6 linked regions of the Homo sapiens genome follow. The protein of the gene in region 1 interacts with the protein of each later gene in a biochemical or structural test. Each region holds a gene or a part of one and is shown in the gene's direction. Other genes may lie near its edges.

Region 1 (5,164 bases):
CTCAAGGCATCAGAATATTCTTTCTTCCTCTTGCTCCTTTTATGAGAACTCTGTGGAAATGAGAGATGAGGAGGAGCATTGCAATCCACTTCTCTTTGTGTCTGTGTATGTATACGTGGGTGGGTGGAGTGGGCGAGATTGCTGGTGTGCTTTTGATACCCGTGGCTTAGTTTTCTTGAACTATAGGCTAAAACTGAACTCAAAGGTCTTTCGCCGCCTCCACCTTTTCTAGAGTATGTGTCCTCTGGAACTCCATTAAGAATGTACTGTATAAAACTGCACTGGTTTGGACTAAGTGTGCCCGAAGGTTGTTTGCATTTGAGGGTTTATAATTCCTTTAGCTGCTACATACCTTTCCTGGCTTATGCAGGTTCTAAATACGGATTAACTGGTGAGAACACAGAGCTCACAAATTGTCTGAGATCTGCTCTTACCCTCTGAGGCATCTTGTGTGGAAAGGAGATGGACCCTCAGTTTAAAAGTGGTTGGGCATCATCTTTTAAAAACACATGATTGTTAGACGTGCTGACAGTGAGTGGCTGAAGCCAGGCTGCCTGGTATTACCCCTTGGTTCTTCATGAGTCTGTCTTCTCCTGGGCCATGAGCATACCCCTTCTCCGGCATTATTCCATTTCCTTTCACAAGTCCTTAAGATGAAGGAAAATAAAAATTTTAGGTGAACAGAGGGTTTTCTGACTTTTCAGCAGTGATCAATGTGGGTGTCAAATAGACTGATTTCCAAAATATACGTAAGGGGAATAAGTAGAACCGGGATGTTAGGAGGCTGCAGAGTATTCTTACATTTAATAGACTTTGTATGCACTCTCATATAATCGAGAAAGTGATGCATTGTAAGAGAGAATATTGCTTCCTGATTTAACTAGGAGCATTAGCGAGAATTTTTTTTTTCTTTTTTTGAGATGGAGTCTCGCTCTGTTGCCCAGGCTGGAGTGCAGTGGTGCAATCTCAGCTCACTGCAAGCTCCGCCTCCCGGGTTCATGCCATTCTTCTGCCTCAGCCTCCCCAGTAGCTGGGACTACAGGCACCTGCCACCACGCCTGGCTAATTTTTTTTGTATTTTTAGTAGAGACGGGGTTTCACCGTGTTAGCCAGGATGTTGTCGATCTCCTGACCTCGTGATCTGCCCACCTCGGCCTCCCAAAGTGCTGGGATTACAGGCGTGAGCCACCGCGTGCGGCCCTTTTTTTTTTTTTTTTTTTTTCTTTTTCTGAGACGAGTCTTGCTGTGTCCAAGGCTGCAGTGCAGTGGCGCGATCTCGGCTCACTGCAACCTCCACCTCCCGGGTTCAAGCGATTCTCCTGCCTCAGCCTTCCAAGCAGCTGGGATTACAGGTGTACGCCGCCACACCCAGCTAATTTTTGTATTTTTAGTAGAGACTGGTTTCACCATGTTGGCCAGGCTGGTCTTAAATTCCTGACCTCGTGATCCGCCAGCCTCAGCCTCCCGAAGTGCTGGGATTACAGGCGTGAGCCACCTCGTCCGGCCAAGAGAATGATTTTTACTATTATTAAAATTATTAAAATTAGTTTAATTTTGGATTCCTATATTGAGTTATGATCATGTTGCAGTTACACGGTCTTCTAAATGCAAAGTAATAGAGTATAAATGTTTAGTAGTAGACTCCTGTCCAAAAGGAGACAAATTAAAGGATGCCAGGCAGAAAGAAGTGGAGTTGTTCGTGCAGATTTCTGCTTATATCCTCTTAAAACATTAACTTTAATCCAAAAGTTTGCAGAAAACTGAAAAATATACAGAGAGCTTTGCAAAAGTTTGCAGAAAACTGAAAAATATACAGAGCGCTTTGTACACCTTTTTTTTTTTTTAACAGATGATGAACGCAAGGATTATATAGTTTGGAAAGAGGGAGGGGAGCCTACAGGAACGTTAGTGAGATGTTTGAGATGACAGAATGGTAGCTTAAAGATTTCCGCCATTCTTCCTGCCTTGTCTTAAGGACAGATCATGAGTCTACTTGGTATGGTTACCTGTACTTTTTCAAAGAAAATTCTCCCTCACAGGAGGTGAAAGTGAGGGAATGCCTTAGAATTAAAATCTCTGCCTTGGGAGAGTTGGTAAATTTTTTTAAAAAGCTGAAAATTTTATGACCCGTAAATTATGTTTATTATGAAAGCTAAGAAAATAGTGAGACATGATTTAATTTTGTTGATGGGTGCACGGGTCAGAATAATTTTATTTCCTGTGTCTTAGAATCACCTTTTGTTATTCCCCAAGGCCCTTGGTATTTTATAAATGTATTGCCAGGCTATTCTCAGGGAGTGTTATATATCTTCCATGAAATGTAATAGAGATTTAAAAGATAAGTTGTATGTCACATATGATTTAGAAGAACAGGTTAAAATAATTTTTATTGATAAATACTAGATGTTATAGAGAAGCAAAGAGTTTGTATATGCAGGTTTATATATCCCTTTTTATGTCCCAGTAGCTGAAATTATTTATGGCTACAAAAATCATCCCCATTTTGAAACAAACTTTGTATTACTTAAGTGGTTTTCTTTTTTCATTGAGCCTCCTTTTCTCAATTACCTTTGTTTGAAAGCAGTAGGCAAAAAATTCATTTTATGCTACCAGCAAAGCATTGGATGTTTGCCCCTCCTTGGGGTTAGGTGAGACAAAGCCACACTCTCCCCTTGCCTGGCTGCCTGTCACCTCCTCCCTGTGTTTTTATTCCTTTCCTACTTACGTGGGGGCTGATTTGAGCGCTATGAATAGCCAGGCCTTTGGGGAATTAGGGGCAGTCAGAAGCTGTTGATAATAAAATTTCTTAAAACTTTTAAGCTAAAATTGAAAAGTAAAGAATAATTACTATGAACATATTTTACTGTATTTCTCCTTTTTTTTAACACGTTTCTTAGGATCAAGAAACCCTTTTTAAGGAAGTAAAAGAATTACTGAAGGAAAAGAGAAATAGACTAATATTTTAATGAATTTTACCACTGATTACAAGATAACTCTCATTGTTCTTTCAACTTTGAAATTCTTACTTCCATCCATTATTAAATCTTACTGTGAATGGTACCCTTAAAACTTCAGAGTTGGAAGGGACTTTAAATGTCATCAAGTCCAAACACCCACTCAGTGCAACAGTCACTTCTGCAGTTGTAGGTTGGAAACATCAGGGGGCTAAGAGGTGGAAATTGGATGAACAAGTGGAGGAAGAGGAGCAGAAATTTTGGATTCTACATTTTCTTTACTAAATTTTAGGATCTTGGGAATGGCTGGAGTAGTAGAAAGAGATTATATAAAAGGAACAGATATACTAGAAGCTGTGAGATTGAAAGGAAAAAGATTGAAGAAATTGGCTCTCTATTGCTTGGCTCTGTAACAGTTAGGGAGAGTCAGTTTGCCCTTTAAATATTTGTTTAAATTTCTTTCCTCCAAGGCGGGGGATAGAACAGATAAGGGGATGCAAATGAGAGTTAGCATAATGGAATTGAATTAAAGGAAACATTCTCTTATGGAGGATGGGAAAATTCCATCCTTGGTGGTGGATATGACTGGTCCTTAGTAGCTATCTGGGAATTTTGTTAGGGTGGCAAATATAGGTAGAATTTATGGTGTCCTGTATAATTTTCTGGATTTCTGATTTTGTGACTTATTTCCTGTCTTGTGAGTAGTGTCATCTGAAGGCTTTGGATTTGTAATTTCTTTTAAGATTTAAAATACTGTAAGGACCCAAGACAGGATGATTTATAAACCATTTTTGATACTGAAGGTCACAGAAAACCAAAGAGCATACGTTGGTAGTTGGCCTTACATCTCAGATCTGTCTGTGTTTTATTTTCAGTGTCAGAACTTTAAGATCAAGTAGAAAAGATACCCTTCATCTCTATTTTTACAGCATTATTGATATATAATTAAAATACAATAAACTGCATATTTATTCATGAAACCATTTCTATAGTCAAGATAATGAATATAGCAGTCACCTTCAAGTTTCCTCCTTCTCTCTTTGTTATCCCTCCCTCTCACCCATCCTCGTCCTCCCATCTCCAGATTACCACTAATTTTCTTTCTGTAACTATAGATTAGTTTGTGTTTTCTAGAATTTTATATAAATGGAATCATACAGTATGAACCCTTTTGCTGGGGCTTCTTTTATTGTGATGTGTGGTCTTTCATATATCAATAGCTTAATCCTTTATATTGCTGAGTACTATTACATTGTATGGATTTACACAATTTGTTTATTCATTTACCCTATTGATGGACATTTGGGGTGTTCCCAGTTTTGGGAGTGCAGTTTTTGTCTGTGAACATTCTCATACAACTTTTTGGGCTGGACATATGTCTTCATTTCTCTTGGGTAAGTACCCATGAGTGGAATGACTGGGTCATTTGGTAGATCTATGCTTAATTGAGAAATTGCCAAACTGTTTTCAAACTGTTTTCCAAACTGTTTTCATTTTACATTCTTACCAGCAATGTGTAAAAGTTCCAATTTCCTGTCAACTGTTAGTATGATCAGTCTTAAATTTTAGCCATTCTAGTGGGTATGTGATGATATCTCAGTATGCTTTATTTATTTATTTATTTATTTATTATTTTTTGAGACAGAGTTTCACTCTCGTCGCTCAGGCTGGAGTACAGTGGCATAATCTCGGCTTACCGGAGCCTCTGCCTCCCAGGTTCAAGGGATTCTCCTGCCTCAGCCACCTGAGTAGCTGGGATTACAGGAGGCTGCCACCACACCCAGCTAATTTTTGTATTTTTAGTAGAGATGGGGTTTCATCATGTTGGCCAAGCTGGTCTTGAACTCCTAACTTCAGGTGATCCACCTGCCTGGGCCTCCCAAAGTGCTGGGATTACAGGCGTGAGCCACTGTGCCCAGCTGCAGTATGCTTTAATTTGTCATTCCCTAATGATGTTGAACATCTTTTCTTGTCCTTACTTGCTGTTTATATATCTTTCTTAAGAATCTGTTCAAGATTTTGCCCATTTGCTATCTATGTATCGTCCGTGAAGAATCTGCTCATGATTTTTCCTTCCTTCCTTCCTTTCTGTCTTTTGTCTTTCTTTTGTCTGTCTGACTTTCTTTTGTCTGTCTTTCATTCTGTCTTTGAAATGGTAGTCTCACTCTGTTGCCTAAGTTGGAATGCAGTAGTGCAGTCATGGCTCACTG
Region 2 (5,164 bases), on another chromosome or scaffold:
AAAACAGAGATATAGATCAATGGAACAGAACAGAGCCCTCAGAAATAATGCCACATATCTACAACTATCTGATCTTTGACAAACCTGAGAAAAACAAGCAATGGGGAAAGGATTCCCTATTTAATAAATGGTGCTGGGAAAACTGGCTAGCCATATGTAGAAAGCTGAAACTGGATCCCTTCCTTACACCTTATACAAAAATCAATTCAAGATGGATTAAAGATTTAAACGTTAGACCTAAAACCATAAAAACCCTAGAAGAAAACCTAGGCATTACCATTCAGGACATAGGCGTGGGCAAGGACTTCATGTCCAAAACACCAAAAGCAATGGCAACAAAAGCCAAAATTGACAAATGGGATCTAATTAAACTAAAGAGCTTCTGCACAGCAAAAGAAACTACCATCAGAGTGAACAGGCAACCTACAACATGGGAGAAAATTTTCGCAACCTACTCATCTGACAAAGGGCTAATATCCAGAATCTACAATGAACTCAAACAAATTTACAAGAAAAAAACAAACAACCCCATCAAAAAGTGGGCGAAGGACATGAACAGACACTTCTCAAAAGAAGACATTTATGCAGCCAAAAAACACATGAAGAAATGCTCATCATCACTGGCCATCAGAGAAATGCAAATCAAAACCACTATGAGATATCATCTCACACCAGTTAGAATGGCAATCATTAAAAAGTCAGGAAACAACAGGTGCTGGAGAGGATGTGGAGAAATAGGAACACTTTTACACTGTTGGTGGGACTGTAAACTAGTTCAACCATTGTGGAAGTCAGTGTGGCGATTCCTCAGGGATCTAGAACTAGAAATACCATTTGACCCAGCCATCCCATTACTGGGTATATACCCAAAGGACTATAAATCATGCTGCTATAAAGACACATGCACAGTTTTTCTTATCCTAGACAGTTTTAAGAAGGACAGGCCTTGGCCGGGCGCGGTGGCTCACGCCTGTAATCCCAGCACTTTGGGAGGCCGAGACGGGTGGATCACGAGGTCGGGAGATTGAGACTATCCTGGCTAACATGGTGAAACCCCATCTCCACTAAAAATACAAAAAAAAAAAATTAGCCGGGTGTGGTGGTGGGTGCCTGTAGTCCCAGCTACTCGGGAGGCTGAGGCCGGAGAATGGCGTGAACCTGGGAGGCAGAGCTTGCAATGAGTCAAGATCATGCCACTGCACTCCAGCCTCGGCGACGGAGCGAGACTCCGTCTCACAAAAAAAAAAAAAAAAAAAAAAAAAGCAAGGACAGGCCTTACATCCTACGATGTTTCTCATTTTGGGTCTGTTTGGGTCTGTTTAGTGTTTCTTGATGACCATGTTCAGGTCACGCTCTCTTGGCAGGAATCATAGAAATGATGCTGTGTTCTTCGCATGCATCACACCAGGGGACACATGATGCTGACTTGTCCCAACACTGTCAGTGACCTTAATCACTTGGTCACCTTGGTGTCTGCCAGGTTTCTTCTCTGTAATGTCACCTTTTTTCTCTTTATAATTGATAGTATTTTCAGGGGACATATCGTAAGATTATGCCAATATCCTATTTCTCGTCAAGTCTTCATCCTCAGTTTTAGCATCCATTGATGAATTCTATCTGAACCAAACACCACTATTTTGTTTTATTTCCATCTCTGTTAGTTGGCATTCTATGTAAGAAGAGCTTTCCTTTTCCTGTCATTTATTTATATCAGCATAGACTTGTAAAATCCCACTTTATTCAGCAGGTTGTAATCAGTTACTGTCATTAAATATTTTATTGCTCATACTGTCCCAGTTTGTCCAGTGGGAGCCCTTTCAAGGAGGTTCCTAGGTCTTCGTAACAAGTCCCCATCATTCTTTGAACACTTTCTGGCAGAAGTTGTTCCAGGCTTCTCTTGTATTTTGCTTGGCTCAGCTATCTACAATCAGCCATTTTCCCTAGAAGCACTGGTCCTATTTAGTATAAAATGGTTTTTACATGCTACAATTTGGGTACTTGGTGTGCTCATTGTTACTGGGATATACTCTTGGACCATCTCTGAACAGTTAAGCGTGTGTGTGTGTGTGTGTGTGTGTGTGTATGTGTACTCTACACACATATATAAGTATACACAAAGATCTATAGCTATTTCTATATCAATCTGTAAATACATAAATTTAAAAATCATGAATTCATACTGATTTTTTCCAATTCAAACCTAATACCTGAGTTCCTTTATAGCCATAAGTACCTTTTCTAACAGTGAAAAAATTTGACTTTTATTATCCTTAATATATTTGTTCATTGACTTATGTGTTCAGTGTAACTAACTTCCTGACCACGCAGACATCTCCTCTGCCACTTCAGCTCTTCACATCCTTGGATGCCAGTGGGAATATTGCTATTCTCTATGCAGCATCCCTGTGCAACGCCGTCCTCCCCTCCTCAGTACCCTTGCCAGTGGGCACCCTTCTGATGCATCTCTGTATGGTATCTCCCTCCTCCCCTCAGTGCCCCGTGCTGGCGAGCATGCCAACCATGCACCTCTGTGAAATTCACCCTCACTCCACAGACATTTTCTGTAGTGGCCTGTGATTGACTGCTCTGCGCCAGGAACAGAAAAGGAGAAGGAACTATAATTTCTTTTATAGGTAATTAGGAATTCATATATCACATAGGAGTAGAATCTTTGAGCTGGAAGAGACCTTGTAAATAAATCATTTAGGGTGAGCAGGGGTATAGAAAATGGGATTCTTTTGTGTTGGAATTCTGGCCCTGTCACTTACTTGGTGAATCTTGCATAATTAAACATCAGTCAGAGCAGGATATTTAAGTCTGCTGATTCTCCCATCCCCTTGCTGTCTCAGAAATATTCTATAGCATTTGGAGACATGCAGGAACCAGTTGAACACAATTGCTTCTCAATCTATCATGGTTATCTACTCCAGAGCTGAATCTTTAAGTCAGATAGCTGATTTGAATTGCTGAACCCATTGTTCTGCTGAATTCTGTGGCAATTGATGTTACTTCTTCTTTAGGACTTCTATTTCTTCTGGCCTCCTTGCCAATAGTATCAAAGTTTAAGAGGATAAATGAATGGGGAGGGGATAGGAGAAGTCTGGAGATAAATGCAGGGAGAAAGGCACAGCACAAACAAAAAGCATTTTGATAAGGCTTTTCTGAAAGTTGAGTAAATATGTCTGTAGCCCATTATTATAACTCATGGCTGGACTCAAATGTCTGGCTTCAACTGATGCGAGACATGTTGGGGCAATGAAGAGAGTAATATGAACAAACAATCATGGCCGTCAATAAAGATGCTTTAGTGAAAGTATTCTCCTTTGGGAAAAAGAGTCAACCTAAATAAATAGCAACTGCCTTTAACTGAATACCCACTCTGTGCCAGGCACCAGGTTAGATTTTTTCATACTTTAGCTGTAATCATCACAACATTATTGCAGAAGTAGGAAGTATTACCCCCATTTTAGAGATAAGGAATATGAGATTCTGATTTGTTCAAGAACCTTCTCCCAGTAGGGAGAAGTGTTATATTCATAACAAACACTTGGTCCTTCCACTTTCCTGCTACTAATACGCAAATAAAATAATTTAACAGAAGAGACTTTTTCTCAGGAATATGATGAATGTGAATGGAATGTGTGCAAAATTAACTTGTAATTGTTATGCTCTCATTTCCACATCTTCTGTCTTTTCTTGATAAAGCTTTTAGGTGGACCTCTGAAGTACTTGATTTCTGTATTTGCTTAACAAATATTTGATGAACACTATGTATCAGGCACGTGGGTCAGGGCATGAGGTATAATGATATAGAATATACTTTACCGATTTTATAGCCAAGAGGGAGAGAGAAACATTAAATAAATTATCACACATCAATATTTTATAAGTGTTATTAAGGAAAACAGTGTAAGATGAAAGTATTTATAACAGGCTGGGCGCAGTGGCTCACACCTGTAATCCCAGCACTTTCGGAGGCTGAGATGGGTGGATCACTTGAGGTCAGGAGTTCGAGACCAGCCTGGCCAACATGGTGAAACCCTGTCTCTACCAAAAATACAAAAATTAGCCAGGCATGGTAGCATATACCTGTAGTCTCAGGTACTTGAGAGGCTGAGGCAGGAAAATTGTTTGAATCGGGAGGTGGGGGTTGCAGTGAACCGAGACTGCGCCACTGCACTCCAGTCTGGGCAACAGAAGAACACTCTGTCTCAAAAAAAAAAAAAAAAGTATATCTAAAAATTAATTAATTTTATATGGTGTGGAGAAGGGAGAAAATATCAAGGAAATTGAAACTAAGGATGAATAGGAGTTAGCAGGTGAAGAGTGGGGCAATAGAACCCCATTGAGTAAATAGAACCACATGTGCAAAAGATGGGATGGAGACGAACAGGAAGGTTGGAGTGCTAAAACAAGAGGCACAACGTCAGCAGATGAGGCTGGAGAGGATAGCCTGATCAGGCAAGCCTGGCATGCCGTGTTAAGGATTTGGAATTGTATACCAAGTAGCATGGAAATCAAATGCACGCACGCGCGCGCACGCACACACACACACACCATTGTCGTCATCATCAACATTATTTTTCATAGTTAATATTTGTTCCTCATATGCTTAACATTTGTTTGCTAGTTATTTCTTTATTTCTTCTTGCTTCTTCACCTTTCCATCTAGGATCACTTTTTCTGCCTAAAATATATCACCTAGAATTTTTTTTTTTAAGAGATGGAGTTTCACTCTTGTTGCCCAGGCTGAAGTGCAATGGCGCAATCTCGGTTCACTGCAACCTCTGCCTTCTGGGTTCAAGTGATTCTCCTCCCTCAGCCTCCCGAGTAGCTGGGATTACAGGCGCCAGTCACCATGCCTTGCTAATTTTTGTATTTTTAGTAGAGACGGGGTTTCACCATGTTGGCCAGGCTGGTCTCGAACTCCTGACCTCAGGTGATCCACCTACCTTGGCCTCCCAAAGTGCTGGGATTACAGGTGTGAGCCACCACCCCCAGCCCTAGAATTTATTTTACTGACTGTTTGTTGGAATTGAACTTTCTCAGTTTTTGTTTTTGTCTGAAAATGTATTGATTTTGCCTTCTTTTATGGAATGGGGGTGGGGAAGAGTGAAATTTACAAAGAGTGAAATGCACAGATTATAAATGTATAATTTGATGA
Region 3 (5,074 bases), on another chromosome or scaffold:
ATAAGTGGACTAGTTTACTGGGCACTGACTAGGTAACTGGCCCTCTGCTCAGCATTTTCAGGCTTTATCCTTACAATAAAGCTGTGAGGTAAATATTATGATGATTCCCATATTACAGATAACAAAAAAGAGATCCAGAGAGGTTTAGTAGCTTTCTCGAGACCACAGACAGGCTGAGATTACAATAGAGCTGAAATCTAAACCAGGTCTCAGTCCAGGCCTGAGCTCTTGGCCCCGTGTTATGCTGCCGCCAATGCATAGAGCACAATGCACTCAGGTGCACTTGGGACAGTCGGCCCCGTTTTTTTTTTTTTTGAGACAGAGTCTCACTCTGTCGCCAGTCTGCCCCGTTTTAACAGGTCACGCCTGTTGGGAGCAGCCAGCAGCTCCCCACAGAGGTCTGTTTGGAAAGACTGGGAATGTTGTGTGCTTATAATCCACATGCTCCAGCACCATTGCAAGGATACAGTTTTGTCAGGAGTAGGATATTGACTAAAAGTTAGAAAAGAAAACCCTTTGGGTAGGGGGAGGAGAATAGATACTAGGACTCCAGGGCTTAATCATTAAATATGTCCATTTAAATTAAGCTGAGTCTCCACATTTTCTAATGTCGTGTAGCGAATACAGGAAAAGCTGAGGAACAAAGAGTGGAGATAATGGGCTATAGTTACAACCAAAACCCTGGAGTTTTGTAGATGGAGGTCTAAGAAAGATTAGGAAAGACCCCTATCCTTACCAGGTGGCGGACACAATACCCATACCCCAAACTGTGCAATCTTTGTGGAGAACATGCAGTTCAGATGAGCCTAGGGCTGCACACCATCCCCTTTCGAAAAACTCATTCTGGACATTTTCAAACATACACAAAAATAGAGAGAAAAGAATAATGAGCCTGATTTACCCACGAGCCAGTTTTACCAATTATCAATACATAACTAATCTTGCTACCTGCATGCTCTCTTCCGTTCCTAGGCCCAGCGTAGGTTATTCTGAAGCAAATACTTTTATCTATAAATGTTTACAGCTGGGTGCAGTGGCTCACACCTGTAATCCCAGCATTTTAGAAGGCTAAAATGGGTAGATTGCTTGAGCCCAAGAGTTCAAGACCAGTCTGAGCAACATGGCAAAACCTCTCCTCTATAAAAAAGACAAAAAAATTAGCCGGGAGTGGAGGCATCAGCCACTGTGGTCTCAGCTACTCAGGTGACTGACCTGAGAGGATCATCCGAACCCAAGAAAGTCGAGACTACAGTGAGCCATGATTGAGCCACTGCATTCCAGCCTGGATGGCAGAGAGAGACCCTTTCTCAACAACAACAACAACAGTTTACTTTTGCATTTCTGAAAGATAAAACTCTTAAAAAAAAAACCCACCACAATATCATTATTGTACCTACAAAAATTTAATAATAATTCTTTAATATCATTAAATATCCTGCCAAAAAAAGGCTGGATTGAGCCTGGGCACAGTGGCTCACGCCTGTAATCCCAGCATTTTGAAAGGCTAAGGTGGGTGGATTGCTTGAGGCCAGGAGTTCAGAAACAGCCTGGTTAACATGGTGAAACCCTGTCTCTACAAAAAACACAAACATTGGCTGGGCATGGTGGCTTATGCCTGTAATCCCAGCACTTTGGGAGGCCGAGGCAGGTGGATCACGTGAGGTCAGGAGTTCGAGATCAGCCTGGCCAACATGGTGAAACCTTGTCTCTACTAAAAATACAAAATTAGCTGGGCGTGGTTACAAACGCCTGTAATCCCAGCTACTCGGGAGGTTGAGGCAGGAGAATCACTTGAACCCGGGAGACAGAGGTTGTGGTGAGCTGAGATAGAGCCATTGTACTCCAGCCTGGGCAATAAGAGCGAGACTCCTTCTCAAAAAAAAAAAAAAGAAGGAAAAAAAAAATGTAGAGACAGTGTCTCACCATGTTGCCCAGGCTGGTCTTGAACTCCTGTTCTCAAACAATCCTCCTACCTTGGCTTCCCAAAGCACTAGGCTTACAGGTGTGAGCAACCATGTCTGGCCTGATCTATCTGTTAAAGTTATGTTTGATCAAGTTCCCCTTCTATTTTTTTCGTTGTTGTTGTTTGCAGTTTTGCTTTTGTTTTTTAACTGGAGAATCATGTTGCTTGTCCTGAGTTTTCTATGGTTTGGATTTTTCAGACTCTCTCCTGTGGTCATATTTACCATGCTCCTCTTCCCCTGGATTTCCTGTAAATTGGTAGTTAGTTCTAGAGCCTTGATCAGATTCAGATTTGAGCATTTTTGTGTTTTGCTTTTGCAAGAATATTTCATAGGTGGTATTAAATACTTCTACTAGGCCGGGCGCGGTGGCTCACGCCTGTAATCCCAGCACTTTGGGAGGCCGAGGCGGGTGGATCATGAGGTCAGGAGATCGAGACCATACTGGCTAACAAGGTGAAACCCCGTCTCTACTAAAAATACAAAAAATTAGCCGGGCGCGGTGGCGGGCGCCTGTAGTCCCAGCTACTCGGGAGGCTGAGGCAGGAGAATGGCGTGAACCCGGGAAGCGGAGCTTGCAGTGAGCCGAGATTGCGCCACTGCAGTCCGCAGTCCGGCCCGGGCGACAGAGCGAGACTCCGTCTCAAAAAAAAAAAAAAAAATACTTCTACTAAAGGCAAAGTCTGATTGCCTCTCTTTTTTGTGATGTTAGTGGCCTTTGGTGGTCATTGTCTCAACTCCTTTTAAAAGGAACAGCCCCTCCTGCACTCCAGCTGATTATTTTTGGGATTGGGGTGAGGAAAAATATAGTCTCAATGCAGCCAGTTAAAGGGAAACTGAAAACTAGATATTGGTGTAAAATAGCCCAATTTCTAAACGTTAACAACAAATTCTATTTTTTAAAAAGCACTGTGCAGGCCACACACAATCTATCTGAGGCTTGCATCAGTCTGCAGGTTGTAGGTTGGAAGTTTGCAAGACTAGGGGGTGTGAGTCAGTGACCAAATAGAGGCCTAGTTGCTCACTTGCCCCTGGGATGGTCACTGTGGGGGCTGCAACTCTGAACTACCTATGAAGCTTCTAGGAGTAGGGGGATAGTACTGCTGAAGAGCTGGGGCGGGTTTGCTGGGCAGTGACCTCAGCAAGGATGTTGGAGTGGCAAGAGGATTCTCAAGGATCATGCACTGGTGGAGACATTGTGAATTGAGGATAGAGGTGGGGGCCAGCCCAGGAAAGGGGCCAAGTCACTCTTTTACAACTGTGTTGCTATGACCATGAGGGCTGCAGAGAAGGTTTGTGCTCCTGCAGAAATGAGGCTAGAATTGAGCAAAAATTATATTCTCCTTCCTATTGTAGGATATTCATAGAGCTATGGATTGAATGCATAAATGCATGAATTCATGAATTAAATGAATGATGAATGAATAAACTTTACTACCTGTATTGAATTCATACTCTGCTCCAGGCCTTATCGTAAATGCTGGAAATGTATACTATGGGGCAAAGATGTTCTTACCTCCTGGCCTTCACAGCCTGGTGAGGAGACAAAGAAAGAAACAAGTGGTTATGATCAGTGCGATGAGCTCTCTGGGGCTGGGGAAGTACAGGAGGGGCCCCTGACCCTGCCTGTGAGAGTGGTGGGGGAGAGGGCAATGGGTCAGTTTTAAGAAGGGACCTGTATACTGATGTCTGAAGGAGAGGTAGGTGATAGCCAGGTGAAAATCGAGAGTAAGGGAGGTGGGCTGGGAGAGGACAAGGGGGCATGTCCCAAGCAAAGAGAGAGAAGGGGAGTGGCTGGAGGTAAGGCTGAGAGGCAGACAGGGGTTCATGACAGCACATAAAACCTGGGGAGGAATTTGGACTTTATCCTGAGGGCAGTGACAAAACAATTAAGAGGATTCCGTTGGAAAATTACTTGATTAGTTTAGCATCTCAGAAGAATCATTTGGGCTGTACTGTGCAGCTGAGATTGGAGGAGACCAGATAGGAAGAGAAAGACCAGTTATGATGTTTTTGCAATGATGCAGGTTAAAAAAAAAAAAGCTAGTAGCCTGGGCTATGTTAGTTATGTGGGGTGGAGAGAAGGGGAAAGCTTTAAGTCAATCACTGATTCCTGAGCAAGTGAGTACACCTGGCTTCACCACTAAGGCATTTGTGGATGAACGAATGAAGGAAGGAAGGAATGATACGTGAACATTTAATGTATTTTATATGTAAGTGTCGCATGAATCGATGCAGGAGTGAAGGTGTGCGTTCTGGAATAAATGCATGTGTGTGAAAGCAAAGGCCGGGGTGGGCTGCGCTTGGAGGGAGATGTGCCAAGCTCCAGAAGGGCCTCCCAGATGGCCAAGGGGGGAGAAACTGCCCTTCCAGGACAGATCGGAAGGATGAAGCTCTTTGAAGCAGGAAGGTACAGGCTGACAGGGATGGCAGATGGATTGGTGTGTGTGACTCAGTCAGGAGATGGTGAACTGGTCCCCAGATTCCAGAAGTGTCCAGCCAGCCCTCATGAAGCAGGCTGTGGCTGTGGAGGGCATGGAGGCCCTAGGGTGCTGTTCCTGGAAGGTTTTAGCAGGAGAGTCCTGAGGCAATGGAGGGTCTCTAGGGAACAGCAGGTATTCCCTGAGCCTCAGCTAAGTTTCAGGTGCCTATTGAAAACCTTATTCCATAGAGTGTGAGTTAGGGGGAAGTGGGGGTGAGGAGAGGCGGTGATGGCTGCCTAGAAGGTGGATGGGCAAGAGCCCCTCCTCTTTGGGTGTCTGTGGGCCCACGTCATTTGGAAGCTGAGGATGGTGAAGCACCCTGCCTGAATAACTCTCGTCAGGTGTGCAGCCACCTTGGCGTAACCACGCCCACTCCCAGCCCTGCTGTGTCTGGTTGCCCAGCAGCAGGGTCTTGGGACTGCCTGTCCCTTAGTACTGCCTCTTGGACCAGTCAGGATTCCTGGTTTCCCTGGTAACGGGAAGCACGTCAGCAGTCTGGGCGCTCCCAGCCGGTCCTGGTGCTGCGGTTGCCGAGGAGACGCTGCAGCCTAGCTGGGCCCTGGCAGGTGAGGGGTGGGGGGTGGTGCTGGGAAGCCCCAAGCCCAGCCTCAAGCTTGCTGGGGCTCAGGA
Region 4 (5,164 bases), on another chromosome or scaffold:
TGGTATTCATATATTTATTTTGTATCTGAATTTTTCAGATCCGTGAGAGATTTGTAAAAGAGCCAGCATTTGAGGACATAACTCTAGAATCTGAAAGAAAACGAATATTTAAAGATTTTATGCATGTGCTTGAGGTAATTTTAGAATTCTCATATACAAAATATATAAAATATAAACAAATTGAAGAACTTAGAATGATGAAAGTATGTTGCTTAATATTCACTGCTTTTATACAAATGTACTTACCTGGATGGTTAGAGAATGGTTTTTTTCCTATAAAAACTGCTTTTAAGTAAAAGAAACTATTAAGTTTCCATGGGAATATAAAGATTTGTATGTGAAGACTGTTTTGTATTTTTAGAAAGTTTTAGAAATTGAGCAGTTTGGCAGCCACATGGATTGATTGACTAATAAAGAAAACTTGAAATTTTTCTTGTAAAGCAGATAGAAGACAGCTTTTAGGCACATTTGAGGTATTATACCACATTAGCTGTGTAGAAAAGAAAGTTTCTGGAAAGTAATGGAATAAATGGTAAGTTTTTGTTAAAATAAGCAATGAAACAATAACATCTCAGGTCACTTTAATAGGTAAGGTTCACTGGGCACGGTGGCTCACGCCTGTAAAACAAGCACTTTGGGAGGCCAAGGTGTGTGCTGATCACCTGAGGTCAGGAGTTTGAAACCAGCCTGGCCAACATGGCGAAATCCTGTCTCTACTAAAAATACAAAAAAATTATCAGGGAGTGGTGGCGGGCACCTGTAATCCCAGCCACTCAGGAGGCTGAGGCAAGAGAATTGCTTGAACCCAGGAGGCGGAGGTTGCAGTGAGCCAAGATCATGCCACTGCACTCCAGCCTGGGCAACAGAGCGGGACTCCTTCCCCAAAAAAAAAAAAAAAAAAAAAGTATTTTGATGACAGTTTCAGTTAGGCCCTTGTAAGTATGCTGAATTGACCAATAATTATTGAATAATAGTATTCGATGCCTATGTGGGCCAGTGTTCTAATTGCTTTATGTATATTATATTTATGAACTGAATCCTTTCAATAAGCCTGTGAAGTTAATAGGTGAACAAACTAAGGCAGAGAGAAGTAAAGTGACTTACAGGGTTGGAAGCCGGGCATGTTGACCTTGGTCAGTGCTTTTAACAAGTATGCCATGCTGTCAGTTTTAGAGTAGCTAATACTTTATAAGCTAAAAACTAGTAGGTGCTTAATATTACAGTGTTGCATTGTAAATGGGCATAGGTCACTAAATTGACTATTTCCTATTTCTTGATTTATTGTTCTTGATTAATATAATGTTAACCACAGTTTTTTCTGTACCATGTACTCACGAAGGCCCTGTATTGTTTCACAGCTGCCTCTAGATGTGGTCCTGTTGGCCTTTTTTTTTTTTTTTTTAAAGCGGGGTCTCTGTCATCCATCCACTCCTAGGCCAGAGTGCAGCGGTGCAGTTATGGGTCACTGCAACCTTGAACTGTTGGATTCAAACAATCCTCCTAAGTAGCTGGAACTGCAGGCACGTGCCATCACACTTGGCTTTTTGTGGGGCTTTTTTGGTTTTTGTTTTTATAAAGATGGGATCTTGCTGTGTTGGGCAAGCTGACCTCAAGCAAGTCTCCTGCCTTGGCCTCCTGAAGTACTGTGATTATAGGTGTGAGCAACCATGCTGGGCCTCTAGATCTTTTCTGTGCCAAATGTAGTGCATACCAGAAGCATCTGCATTACCTAGGAGCTTCTTAGGAATGCAGAACCTTAGGCCCCATGGGGCAGAAATCCTGCGTCTGACTTCATTTTAACCAGATTCCCAAGCATTAAAATATACATTTAATTTTGAGAAGCTCTGCTCTAGATAGTGACTAACCTATTTTCCCCCAGTTCAAGAGTCTACAGATTCTTTCATGATCTATACTGGGGGTAAAGTAGTTAGGTGGTAAATGGAGTAAAAATGGTACCATAGGGAAGGGCTGAACACATTCAGATTTTGGGGCCTTAATAATCTGAGGCTTGAGGTATTAAAGAAAGGTAGGTTAGCATTCAGTGAGATCAAAAGGAGAATAGTCCATTCTGAGATCCAGATTTTCCATTTCCACTTCTGTAACTGAGGTAGAATTTATTCTCAAAGCCATAGAAATGTTTAGGGGCAAGGAGCTTGTACTGTAGCACCCCCCATCACTGCTAACCTAGTAATTGTTTTAATAAGTAGAAATCCACAAAGACAGCATATGGATGTCTAACAATGTCTTGTTTGAGGAGGAAGGAAATGGCTCCTTGGGGGAAATGAAAGAGGGGTAGCAGATTTTGCATTTATTCTGACATCAGCCTTATATATCTCAATTCAAGGATGGCTCTCAGGTTGTTCTTTATCTTAGTGCTTGGCCTAACTTGCTGACCAAAGCCAGATTGATTACAAAAACCATGTCTGAGTGTCATTGTATTTGACTGTCATTAAAAGCAGATGTCACTGCATATTACACTTTTCTTCTAAATCACACCATTCTCTTCCTTAAAAAATACTTTTTCAGGCTGGGCACAGTGGCTCACGCCTGTAATCCCAGCATTTGGGAGGCCGAGGTGGGCGGATCACAAGGTCAGGAGATCGAGACCATCCTGGCTAACATGGTGAAACCCCATCTCTACTAAAAATACAAAAAATTAGCCGGGCATGGTGGCAGGCGCCTGTAGTCCCAGCTACTCGGGAGGCTGAGGCAGGAGAATGGCGTGAACCCGGGAGGCGGAGCTTGCAGTGAGCTTAGATCACGCCACTGCACTCCAGCCTGGGTGACAGAGTGAGACTCCATCTCAAAAAAACAAACAAACAAAAACTTTTTCAGCTGGGTGCAGTGGCTCATGGCTGTAATCCCAGCACTTTGAGAGGCCAAGGCGGGTGGATCACCTGAGGTCAGGAGTTTGAGACCAGGCTGGCCAACACGGTGAAACCCTGCCTCTACCAAAAATGCAAAAATTAGCTGGGCGTGGTGGTGTGCACCTGTAATCCCAGCTACTTGGGAGGCTGAGGCAGGAGAATTGCTTGAACCTGGGAAGCGGAGGTTGCATTGAGCCAAAATCGCACCACTGCACTCCAACCAGGGTGACAGAGCGAGACTTCGTCTCAAAAAAAAACAAAAACAAAAAAAGCCCTACTTTTTCTACTAACAGTTTTTAACATTGTTTTGTTTAGATGTCTAAATGAGTGGGTATAGGATGGGCAAGAAGGAAAAGAAAAAAAAATTGACAATTCTTCACAGTTTCAAGGGATTACATTTCTATATATTGTAGAGTTTTACTCTAAGAACTTACTTCCGTAGCTTTTTAAAGATTCTTTACAGTCTGTCTACAGTAAGTGTAAATTCTTGAAATTTTTTTTTTGTCCCCGTAGCATGAATGTCAGCATCATCATTCAAAGAACAAGAAACATTCTAAGAAATCTAAAAAACATCATAGGAAACGTTCCCGCTCTCGATCGGTAAGGGAATTTATTATATGGTGTCATGAGTGTATTAAAGTGTTAGCATTATTATGAATGAAATTATTTGTGTTTTTTAGGGGTCAGATTCAGATGATGATGATAGCCATTCAAAGAAAAAAAGACAGCGATCAGAGTCTCGTTCTGCTTCAGAACATTCTTCTAGTGCAGAGTCTGGTGAGCATTTCTATTTATTTGATTAAATCATTGACACTGATATACTCAAAGTCTGACACTTTTTATCCTTTTGTGCTACTCAGAGAGAAGTTATAAAAAGTCAAAAAAGCATAAGAAGAAAAGTAAGAAGAGGAGACATAAATCTGTAAGCAAGCTTCTAATTTTTACGTTTCACCTAGGCTTTTGCCCTTAACTTCCTCAGAGATCATAGAACCTTTTTCTATCTAGTTCTCTGCAGCCCAGGACAGTTCAGGTGGGCACATAAACTTAGAGTTTTGTTGTTGCTCTTCACCTTAATCTTCCATTAAAATCAATTGTTGAGCTTTGAAAAAATACACACACCAGTGTTAGGATCCCCATCCTGGTCTTTAAAATTAATATTCTAGAAAGAGACTCGTGTGTGTGCATGTGTCTCTGTGTATGTATGTATGTTTGTGTGTATGTGTAGATTGCAGCTGTTGTTGAGAACCACAAGTTTAAATGTTAAAACAACCACTCTACTCTTGCAGTTCTTATTCTTAGGTGTACATTAAGATCCACCTAAGGAACTTTTTGAAAATCTGAAGGCCTGGGTATCACCACAGACCTGTTGAATTACATTCTTTTTATTTGAATTTGTGCATATCTAATGAATAACCATTTAAGCACTAACGTTAAATTTTAAATAATTCCTACTCAGCAATTTCAAGAAAATAATTTTATTAATACAGCTGTCTGCCTTATGTGTTAAAGCTAACAGCAGTATACTATGTACATATATAAACCAATATTATATTGAGTTGGTGAGAAATGTAGTATCTGTCTGTATTTACATAATAGATACTACACATCTATTATGTGGTAGTAAGTCTCATGAGTGGTATTTTATCCTTCAGAATATTATCCTTCCCAAGGGAAAGCTGTCCCCATGAATCTTGGGTAAATTTTACTAAATCCTTGAGGTTAACAATTCACATTTTATTTCATCTCTCTAAGAGCACATAACCTGTTACACATAGATGTTCTTAAATATTACCTATATAACAATGGTATCTTCATCAAAATGCTAACCTGTTATTTTCTATTCATACAGGACTCTCCAGAATCCGATGCTGAGCGAGAGAAGGATAAAAAAGAAAAAGATCGGGAAAGTGAAAAAGACAGAACTAGACAAAGATCAGAATCAAAACACAAATCGCCTAAGAAAAAGACTGGAAAGGATTCTGTAAGTATTTAGAATTGTTTCATGCCTGTATTTTCAAAATGCAAAAATGTATTCTGTGGTTAAACCATGATGGTGTTGAAAGAATAGGCTTTTTTCCAGGTGTGCTACCATTGAAGAAAACAGTGAAAATTCAGTTAAGTACATTTCACACAATATCATAGTTTTTGGTCATGCATGATCCTAGATTTTATTCTCCTAAATTTGATATTTTTTAAATATAGCATTTCATAACTATAGCCTTATTAACTCACTAAGAAAGGATATGGTCACTAAGAAGTGCCACTGGACATTTTTTACCTAATTTTCAAATTTTTTT
Region 5 (3,497 bases), on another chromosome or scaffold:
TGAGCAGCTCTCTAGCTACCTGGAGTCCCCAGGTTGGCAAGTGGATTAGATTGAAACTCATGTTTTCCAGCTCCCAAGTGGGGTCATCATCTACCTCCCACCACTGTATTCTAACCCATCGAGGGAGACCTGTCCCTGACCCAGAGATTAGGAATTTCAAGCTCTGTTGTCGCACAATTGGTGTTTTGCCAGAACATGCCTGAGCAAGCCCCCTGTCCCTTTGCTAGATGCCTCGGTTTCCAGGGAGGTTTGGGGGCCCTAGAGAAGTGTTTTTGGACTTAATGGCTTTTCCTCAAATCCCCAATACGTCTTTCCTGGCAGCCCCACCATGGCTGCAATCCGAAAGAAGCTGGTGATCGTTGGGGATGGTGCCTGTGGGAAGACCTGCCTCCTCATCGTCTTCAGCAAGGATCAGTTTCCGGAGGTCTACGTCCCTACTGTCTTTGAGAACTATATTGCGGACATTGAGGTGGACGGCAAGCAGGTGAAGGCAGAAATGCCCTTCCCACCCCACCCTGAGACCCCGCCCCCCAGTCACTGAATGACCTAGTATGTCCTTCCCCATTCCTACCCCTGTCTTTGCTTCATTCTCCCTGCTGGAACCAGTAAAAGTTAGGAAGTAAATCTGCAGTCTTAAAAAACCTGGATATACTTTCTGGTTCTCCCACAGACTGGCTCTGTAACCTGGGCCGAGTCCCTTTGCCTCTGGGTTTAAGCTCCCCCACCTGCAAAATGGGGATGATGGTAAGACCTCCCTCAAAGGGTTGTTGTGAGAATTAACCAAAATAATGGTGCTCACAGTGGCAACTCAAGGGTCAAACACGTCTTAGATTTCTTTAACAAACTGACCTAATTTATGTTGTGGGACAGTGATTAATATAATGCCTGGTGCATAGCAGGTGCTCAAATAAAGAAGTTCAGTGAGCCCGAAGGACAGTGGTTTCAGGGGACCTTTGGGTGGCAGGGTTGGGGCCCTCAGGCCAGCTACTCACTGGCCCTGTGTGTCAGGTGGAGCTGGCTCTGTGGGACACAGCAGGGCAGGAAGACTATGATCGACTGCGGCCTCTCTCCTACCCGGACACTGATGTCATCCTCATGTGCTTCTCCATCGACAGCCCTGACAGCCTGGGTGAGGGGATTGGAGGGAGGGGACTGAGAACCCCTTGGAATCAGCCAGAGGTCTCGTGCCTTGGCCTGTCTTCAGTCATCTTCAGAGGTGGGGGTGGGGATGCAGGGGAGCACTCAGGCCCTGTTGGTCTCCTTTACTGTGGTAACTGGCCCTCTGAGGGCATACTACTGTTGAGGTTTTGAGCTGTGAAAGGGACCATCATGCTGAATGGCTTCTAAGACTGCTCTGGGAAGATGAGGGCCCCCCCAGGGGAGCTTTCTAGCTTAAGTGGAGGCACCGACACCTGTTGGTGCATGTCTACACAGAAAACATTCCTGAGAAGTGGACCCCAGAGGTGAAGCACTTCTGCCCCAACGTGCCCATCATCCTGGTGGGGAATAAGAAGGACCTGAGGCAAGACGAGCACACCAGGAGAGAGCTGGCCAAGATGAAGCAGGTGGGTACGGCTGCCAGGCTGGAGCCCCTGGGGAAGAATGCACCCTCTGAGGGGTTGCAGACGGGCAAAGGGAACTTCTCTCCAGCTACTGCCGTGTGTTAGGGGAAACAGTAATATCTCCTGGTGAGGGAGGACCCATAGGGTTGTGTCTGATGAGGTATCAGAATGAAGTGACTTGTCCAAAGTCACTTGGCATTTTTATTTATTCCAGTTAATTGTCCATTCCGTTCAGAATTGGGACTATTAAGATGATTAAGAAAATCTGCCCTCGGGGAGACAGCTTATGTTTCACTTGGGATACCCAGGCTGTGCCATCAGAGTGCCCCTGGGGGAGGTGTAGGGATGTGGATGCGGGAATGAGGGCAGGCATTGTGTAAGTGGCTGGAAGAAGGGATGTGAGAGCTGGCTTATTCAGGGACCTGTAAGTGGCTCTCTAGCCAGAGGACTAGAGTTTATTAGAGAAAGCTGTCAGGATAAGAAATGCAAAGATAATTATGGCAAAGTTTCAAACTGGGGAGATGTTAGGTCTGTGTGTTAGAAAAATAATTCTGACTGGAAGAGAGTGAGGATGGAGGCAGAGCAGTCAGGAGGTGGGAGACGCTCATTCAGGCAAGAGAACCAGGGGCTGTGTGTGGGAGGAGGTGGGGCTGCATGGGAATGGAGGGAGTAGACTGGAGGGATTTTTGGATCCCTGGCCACGAAGCTGCCCAGGGTAGCTGGGGCCTGGGCGCTTTCTGGGTCAGGGCTGGAGAAGGAGGCATTTGTTCCAGCTGCTACACTTATGGGTGAGGCAGGAGAGGTTCATGTAGTCAACAGCTTCCTTTGACCCCTCATCTTATGTCTTCTCAGGAGCCCGTTCGGTCTGAGGAAGGCCGGGACATGGCGAACCGGATCAGTGCCTTTGGCTACCTTGAGTGCTCAGCCAAGACCAAGGAGGGAGTGCGGGAGGTGTTTGAGATGGCCACTCGGGCTGGCCTCCAGGTCCGCAAGAACAAGCGTCGGAGGGGCTGTCCCATTCTCTGAGATCCCCAAGGCCTTTCCTACATGCCCCCTCCCTTCACAGGGGTACAGAAATTATCCCCCTACAACCCCAGCCTCCTGAGGGCTCCATGCTGAAGGCTCCCATTTTCAGTTCCCTCCTGCCCAGGACTGCATTGTTTTCTAGCCCCGAGGTGGTGGCACGGGCCCTCCCTCCCAGCGCTCTGGGAGCCACGCCTATGCCCTGCCCTTCCTCAGGGCCCCTGGGGATCTTGCCCCCTTTGACCTTCCCCAAAGGATGGTCACACACCAGCACTTTATACACTTCTGGCTCACAGGAAAGTGTCTGCAGTAGGGGACCCAGAGTCCCAGGCCCCTGGAGTTGTTTTCGGCAGGGGCCTTGTCTCTCACTGCATTTGGTCAGGGGGGCATGAATAAAGGCTACAGGCTCCAACGTGTGTGGCAGCTTTCGGTCTTTCCCTCTGGGTGCTTGGTGTCCCATCTCTTTTCATGTCCAAGTTGCTTGCCAGCCTGGCCCCCTGTCTACAAAGCAGGCCAGTGGCCAGCAGGGTGGAGTCTTAGAGCAAAGGATGAGGTCATGCCTGGCTCTGGGCCAAGGAGGCGGGTGAAGGGAGTGGTCTGTAGCAGGGGGCTAAACTTAGAAACCTGTGGGTGGCTTCCCTGCCACCTCCCACTGGGTTTCCTCCCCCGAGTGTGGGGGCTGGGTTCCTCTCCAGCTGGGAGGGGATGTGACCCTCAGCAGGGCTGAAAGTCCCACCCTTCCCTACAGGGTCAGCTTAGGGGCTCAGGAAGCTGGGGCCAGGCAGAGGAGACATTATCAAGGCTTTTGCATAGAACAAGATTTTGTTTTCAGAGTTTTCTTCCTTCCCCTTCCCCCAATTGTTAGCAGCTTGATGTGTCATTCTCCCCAGCAGGGGAGGGGGTGGAATGGCT
Region 6 (5,164 bases), on another chromosome or scaffold:
TGGTCTCAAACTCTGGACTCTAGCTGTCTTCCCACCTCAGCCTCCTGAGTAGATGGGATTACAGGCATGAGTTGCCACACTTGACTCTAACTGGGGAACTTCACTCTCTGTCTTTTTTTTTTTTGAGACGAATTTTCGCTCTTGTTGCCTAAACTGGAGTGCAGTGGCACGATCTCAGCTCACTGCAACTTCCTCCTCCCGGGTTCAAGTGATTCTCCTGCCTCAGCCTCCTGAGTAGCTGAGATTACAGGTGCGGACCACCATGCCCGGCTAATTTTTCTATTTTTAGTAGAGATGGGGTTTCACCATGTTGGTCAGGCTGGTCTCGAACTCCTGACATCGTGATCCACAGGCCTCGGCCTCCCAAAGTGCTGGGATTACAGGCGTGAGCCACCATGCCAATCCTTTTTTTTTTTTGACAGAGTCTCACTGTGTTGCCCAGGCTGGAGTGCAGTGGCGCGTTCTCAGCTCACTGCAACCTCCGCCTGCCTAATTCAAGTGATTCTCATGCCTCAGCATCCTGAGTAGCCTTTCAGGGGTTACAGGTGCCTGCCACCAACCCAGCTAACTTTTTTTTTTTTTTTGAGACGGGGTTTTTCTCTTGTTTCCCAGGCTGGAATGCAATGGCGAGATATCGGCTTACTGCAGCCTCTGCCTCCTGAGTTCAGGAGATTCTCCTGCCTCAGCCTCTCGAGTAGCCGGGATTATGGGTACATGCCACTACGTCCAACTTATTTTTATATTTTTTGTAGAGACGGGGTTTCACAATGTTGGCCAGGCTGGTCTTGAACTCTGGACCTCAAGTGATCCGCCTACCTCAGCCTCCCAAAGTGCTGGCATTACAGGCATGAGCCATTACTCCTAGCCTTGACTGCATGCTCTTGTTTGAAGATATGCATTGAGCACATTTCCCTATCATCGATATGCTTCTTATTGTGCTTTCATGATTAGTAGTATCTTCAATTTACTCCCTTTTTGCAAAAAAAAAAAAAGTTACTAGATTTTGTAGATTTGGATAAAATTCTATAATATCTGTATCTATATATATACACACACACGTATTCACTGCTGTATGTAATATTGTCCTGAGAATTCACAAATGAGTAATGGCAGCACTGTCAGCCCTCTGAGTTTTTTTGTTTTGTTTTCATTGTTTATTTTTGTCGTTGTTTGCCCTCTGAGTTTTCTTCTGGTACCCCTGTGGATTGTCTTATCCATTCTGGTTGGGGAACATACCCTTTAGACAATATAGTTTTGATAATGAGTATTTATTATTATTATTATTATTATTATTATTATTATTATTATTATTATTTTTGAGACAAGAGTCTCTGTCACCCAGGCTGGAGTGCAGTGGCATGATCTTGGCTCACTGCAACCTCCACCTCCCAGGTTCAAGCGATTCTCTTGCCTCACCCCACCACGCCTGGGTAATTTTAATATTTTTAATAGAGATGGGGTTTCATATGTTGGCCAGGCTGGTCTCAAACTCCTGACCTCGTGATCTGCCCGCCTCGGCCTCCCAGTGTGCTGGGATTACAGGCGTGAATCACCATGCCCAGCTGAGTGTATATAATTTAGGATTAGTTTGACTATAGGTAACAGAGACTTGAAAAATACCACCTTAAATAAGACAGTCATTTATTTCTCATTCATATGGAAGAAACATGGAAGGTAGGCAGTCTTGGGGCTGAGATGGTGGCTCCCAAGATCACCTGAGATCCAGGCTCCTTTTTACCTTTTGGTTCTTCCAGCCCCACGGTATGGCATTCATTCTCACATACCAGGATGGCTGCTTAGAAACCAGCCCTTACTTTAGATTTAAGCAGCAGGAAAGGAGGAGGATAATAAAGACTTCCCTTTAAGAAAGACTTTCTGGAAGTCCCACAACATACTGCTGATTCTCACATCTCATGGTACATGGCCATGTCTCCAAGGGAAGCTAGGAAGTGTAGTCTACAACAAAGTACATAGCTAAAAATCGAAGTATGGTCTAGGAGGGAAGGGCGGGAATTGGGATGGTTGACCATCACTGTCTGCCAGATGGAAGGAATCTGCAGATTTCTCTCTTTTTTCCCCCCACTGGGGGCGAGAGTGGTGGTAACAGCTTTATTGAAATATAATCCACATATCTTACAATTCACCTTTTTAAAGTGTGAATTATATATACTGTGGGCTGGGTGCGGTGGCTCACGCCTGTAATCCCAACACACTGGGAGAGACAGGCAGGAGGATCGCTTGACCTCAGGAGTTTGAGAGCAGCTGGGGCAACGTGGTGAAACCCGGTCACTACTAAAAATACAAAAAATTAGCCGGGTGTGGTGGCATGCACCTTTAGTTCCAGCTACTTGGGAGACTGAGATTGGAGGTTCACTTGAGCCTGGGGAGGCTAAGGTTGCAGTGAGTGGAGATCGCACCACTATACTCCAGCCTGGGCAACAGAGTGAGACCCTGTCTCAAAATAAATAAAATGTGTGAATTATATATACTATAATCAATAGTTTATAGTATATTCATAGAGTTGTGCAGCCATCACCACAATAATTTTGGAAAAATCTTTTTACCTGAGAAACTCCAGTATTCCATTAGTCATTTTCCATTTCTCTCCACCCCCAAGTCCCTGCCCTAGGCAACTACCAGTCTATTTTCTCTTTCTGAATTTGTTTATTCTGGACAATTTTATATAAATGGAATCATGCATGTTGGTTTTTGTGACTGGGTTCTTTCACTTATATAACATTTCCAAGATCTATCCATACTATAGCATATATCAGTACTTTATCCTTTATCGCTGAATAATATTCCATTCCATTGTATGGATATATTATATTCATCAGTTGTTGGATATTTGGGTTCTTTACATTTTTTGACAATATATTATGAATAATCCTGCTATGAATATTCATGTAGAGGTACAAGTTGTTATGTGGACATATGTTTTTGTTTCTCTTAGATATATACCTAGGAATAGAATTGCAGGGTCATACCTACTCACATCCTTTGCTCATTTTTTAATTGGATTAGATTATTTGTCTTTTTATTATTGAATTGTAAGAGTTCTTTATTTTTTAATTTTTTCTATATACTGTATTTAGGCCTGGGGAGGTGGCTTATGCTTGTAATCCCAGCACTTTGGGAGGCTGAATCGGGAGGATTGCATGAGCCCAGGAGTTTGAGACCAGCCTGGGTAATATAGTGAAACGCTATCTGTATAAAAATTAGTCAGCTGTGGTGGCAGGAGCCTGGTAGTCCCAGCTACTGGAGAGGTTGAGGTGGGAGGATCGCTTGAGTTGAGCCTGGGAGGCAGAGGCTGCAGTGAGCCAATATTGCACCACTGCATTCCAGCCTTGGTGACAGAATGAGACCCTTTCTGAAAATAACTACATAATAGAGAAACACATAGATAGGTTAGATAGGTACATAGATTGGATAGATGCGTAGATAGATGGGCAGTGGCTCACGCCTGTAATCCCTCAGCACTGTGGGAGGCCGAGGCGAGTAGATCACTTGAGCTCAGGAGTTGGAGACCAGCCTGGGAAACATGGCAAAACCCTGTCTCTGCCAAAAATACAAAAATTAGCTGGGCGTGGTGGCGCATGCCTGTGGTCCCAGCTGCTGGGGAATTTGAAGTGGGAGGATCACTTGAGCCTCGGAGGTGGAGATTGCATTGAGCCAAGATCACGCCACTGCATTCCAGCCTGGGTGACAGAGTGAGACCTCATCTCAAAAAAAAAAAAAAAAAAAAAAAAGATAGATGGATAGATAAATAGCGTACTTCATGTCAGAAGGAGTTCTCTCTTTTTTTTTTTTTTTTTTTTTAAGACACAGTTTCACTCTGTTGCCCAGGCTGGAGTGCTCTGTTGCCCAGGCTGGAGTGCAGTGGTACAATCTGGGCTCACTGCAACTTCTGCCTCCTGGGTTCAAGCGATTCTCCTGCCTCAGTCTCCCGAGTAACTGGGATTACAGGTGCCCACCACCACACCCGGCTAAGTTTTGAATTTTTTGTAGAAACGGGGTTTTGCTGGGTTGGTCAGGCTGGTCTCGAACTCCTGACCTCAAGTGTTCTGCTTGCCTCAGCCTCCCAAAGTGCTGGGATTACAGGTGTGAGCTACCGTGCCCAGCCCAAAAAGAGTTCTTTATGATTTCAACCTTGCAAGAGATCCTGAGCCAGACCACCAACCTAAGCTGCTTTTTTGTAGTTGAGTCATAAGAGTTTGAGACAAGGTTCCACTCTGTCACCCAGGCTGGAGTGCAGTGATGCAATCATAGCTCACCACATCCTCCACCTCCTGGGCTCAAGCAATCCTCCCACCTCAGCCTCCTTGGTAGCTGGGACTACAGGTGCATGCTACCACAACTGGCTGATTTTTTTTTTTTTCTTTTCCTTCTTTTTTTAGAGACAGTGTCTCACTGGGGTTCCCCAGGCTGGAGTGTAGTGATGCAATCTCAGCTCACTGCAGCTTCCACCTCCAGGGCTCAGGGGATTATCCCACCTGAGCCTCCCAAGTAACTGTGATTAGCATGCACCACCGCTCCTGGCTAATTTTTTGTATTTTTAGTAGAGACAGGGTTTCACTATGTTTCCCAGGCTCGTCTTGAACTCCTGGACTCTCAAGCAGTCCACCTGTTTCGGCCTCCCAGATTGCTGGGATTATAGGCGTGAGCCACTGCGCCCGGCCCTTTTCTTTCTCCCCTCCCCTCTCATGCTTCCGTCCGTCCTTCCTTTCTCAGTGTCTCACTATGTTGTCAGGGCTGGTCTCTTAACTCCTGGGCCTGAGCATTCCTCCTGCTTCAGTCTCCCAAAGTGTTGGGATTACAGACATGAACCACTGTGCTCGGCCTCAATTGATTTTTCTTTTTTGAGACGGAGTTTCGCTCTTGTTGCCCAGGCTGGAGTGCAATGGCATGATCTCGGCTCACCACAACCTCTGCCTCCCGGGTTCAAGCGATTCTCCTGCCTCTTGCTCCTGTGTAGCTAGGATTATAGGCATGTGCCACCACGCCTGGCTAATTTTGTATTTTTGGTAGAGATGGGGTTTCTCCATGTTGGCCAGGCTGGTCTCAAACTCCTGACCTCAGGTGATCTGCCTGCCTCGGCCTCCCAAAATGCTGGGATTATAGGCGTGAGCCACCGCGCCCAGCCAAGAATGCTGTTTCTTTACAA

The links.
Region 2: the proteins of DIAPH1 (region 1) and NEDD4 form a complex in vitro, tested with the Homo sapiens proteins (one study listed by BioGRID).
Region 3: the proteins of DIAPH1 (region 1) and APBB1 form a complex in vitro, tested with the Homo sapiens proteins (one study listed by BioGRID).
Region 4: the proteins of DIAPH1 (region 1) and PRPF40A form a complex in vitro, tested with the Homo sapiens proteins (one study listed by BioGRID).
Region 5: the proteins of DIAPH1 (region 1) and RHOC form a complex in vitro, tested with the Homo sapiens proteins (one study listed by IntAct).
Region 6: the proteins of DIAPH1 (region 1) and RHOA form a complex in vitro, tested with the Homo sapiens proteins (2 studies listed by BioGRID and IntAct, with this or other methods).

What each region holds. Positions count from the first base shown.
Region 1 is NC_000005.10:141,611,496-141,616,659, reverse strand, and holds part of DIAPH1 (protein diaphanous homolog 1), read left to right. Parts: intron 1-5,164. UniProt on the Homo sapiens protein: Actin nucleation and elongation factor required for the assembly of F-actin structures, such as actin cables and stress fibers. Binds to the barbed end of the actin filament and slows down actin polymerization and depolymerization.
Region 2 is NC_000015.10:55,982,679-55,987,842, reverse strand, and holds part of NEDD4 (E3 ubiquitin-protein ligase NEDD4), read left to right. Parts: intron 1-5,164. UniProt on the Homo sapiens protein: E3 ubiquitin-protein ligase which accepts ubiquitin from an E2 ubiquitin-conjugating enzyme in the form of a thioester and then directly transfers the ubiquitin to targeted substrates. Specifically ubiquitinates 'Lys-63' in target proteins.
Region 3 is NC_000011.10:6,405,323-6,410,396, reverse strand, and holds part of APBB1 (amyloid beta precursor protein binding family B member 1), read left to right. Parts: intron 1-4,733; exon of another isoform or gene 4,734-5,074. UniProt on the Homo sapiens protein: Transcription coregulator that can have both coactivator and corepressor functions. Adapter protein that forms a transcriptionally active complex with the gamma-secretase-derived amyloid precursor protein (APP) intracellular domain.
Region 4 is NC_000002.12:152,657,573-152,662,736, reverse strand, and holds part of PRPF40A (pre-mRNA-processing factor 40 homolog A), read left to right. Parts: intron 1-38; coding exon 39-134; intron 135-3,380; coding exon 3,381-3,467; intron 3,468-3,547; coding exon 3,548-3,644; intron 3,645-3,727; coding exon 3,728-3,789; intron 3,790-4,716; coding exon 4,717-4,848; intron 4,849-5,164.
Region 5 is NC_000001.11:112,700,631-112,704,127, reverse strand, and holds the end of RHOC (rho-related GTP-binding protein RhoC precursor), read left to right. Parts: intron 1-321; 5' UTR 322-328; coding exon 329-484; intron 485-1,008; coding exon 1,009-1,129; intron 1,130-1,434; coding exon 1,435-1,565; intron 1,566-2,414; coding exon 2,415-2,588; 3' UTR 2,589-2,997; downstream 2,998-3,497. UniProt on the Homo sapiens protein: Regulates a signal transduction pathway linking plasma membrane receptors to the assembly of focal adhesions and actin stress fibers.
Region 6 is NC_000003.12:49,376,826-49,381,989, reverse strand, and holds part of RHOA (transforming protein RhoA isoform 1 precursor), read left to right. Parts: intron 1-5,164. UniProt on the Homo sapiens protein: Small GTPase which cycles between an active GTP-bound and an inactive GDP-bound state.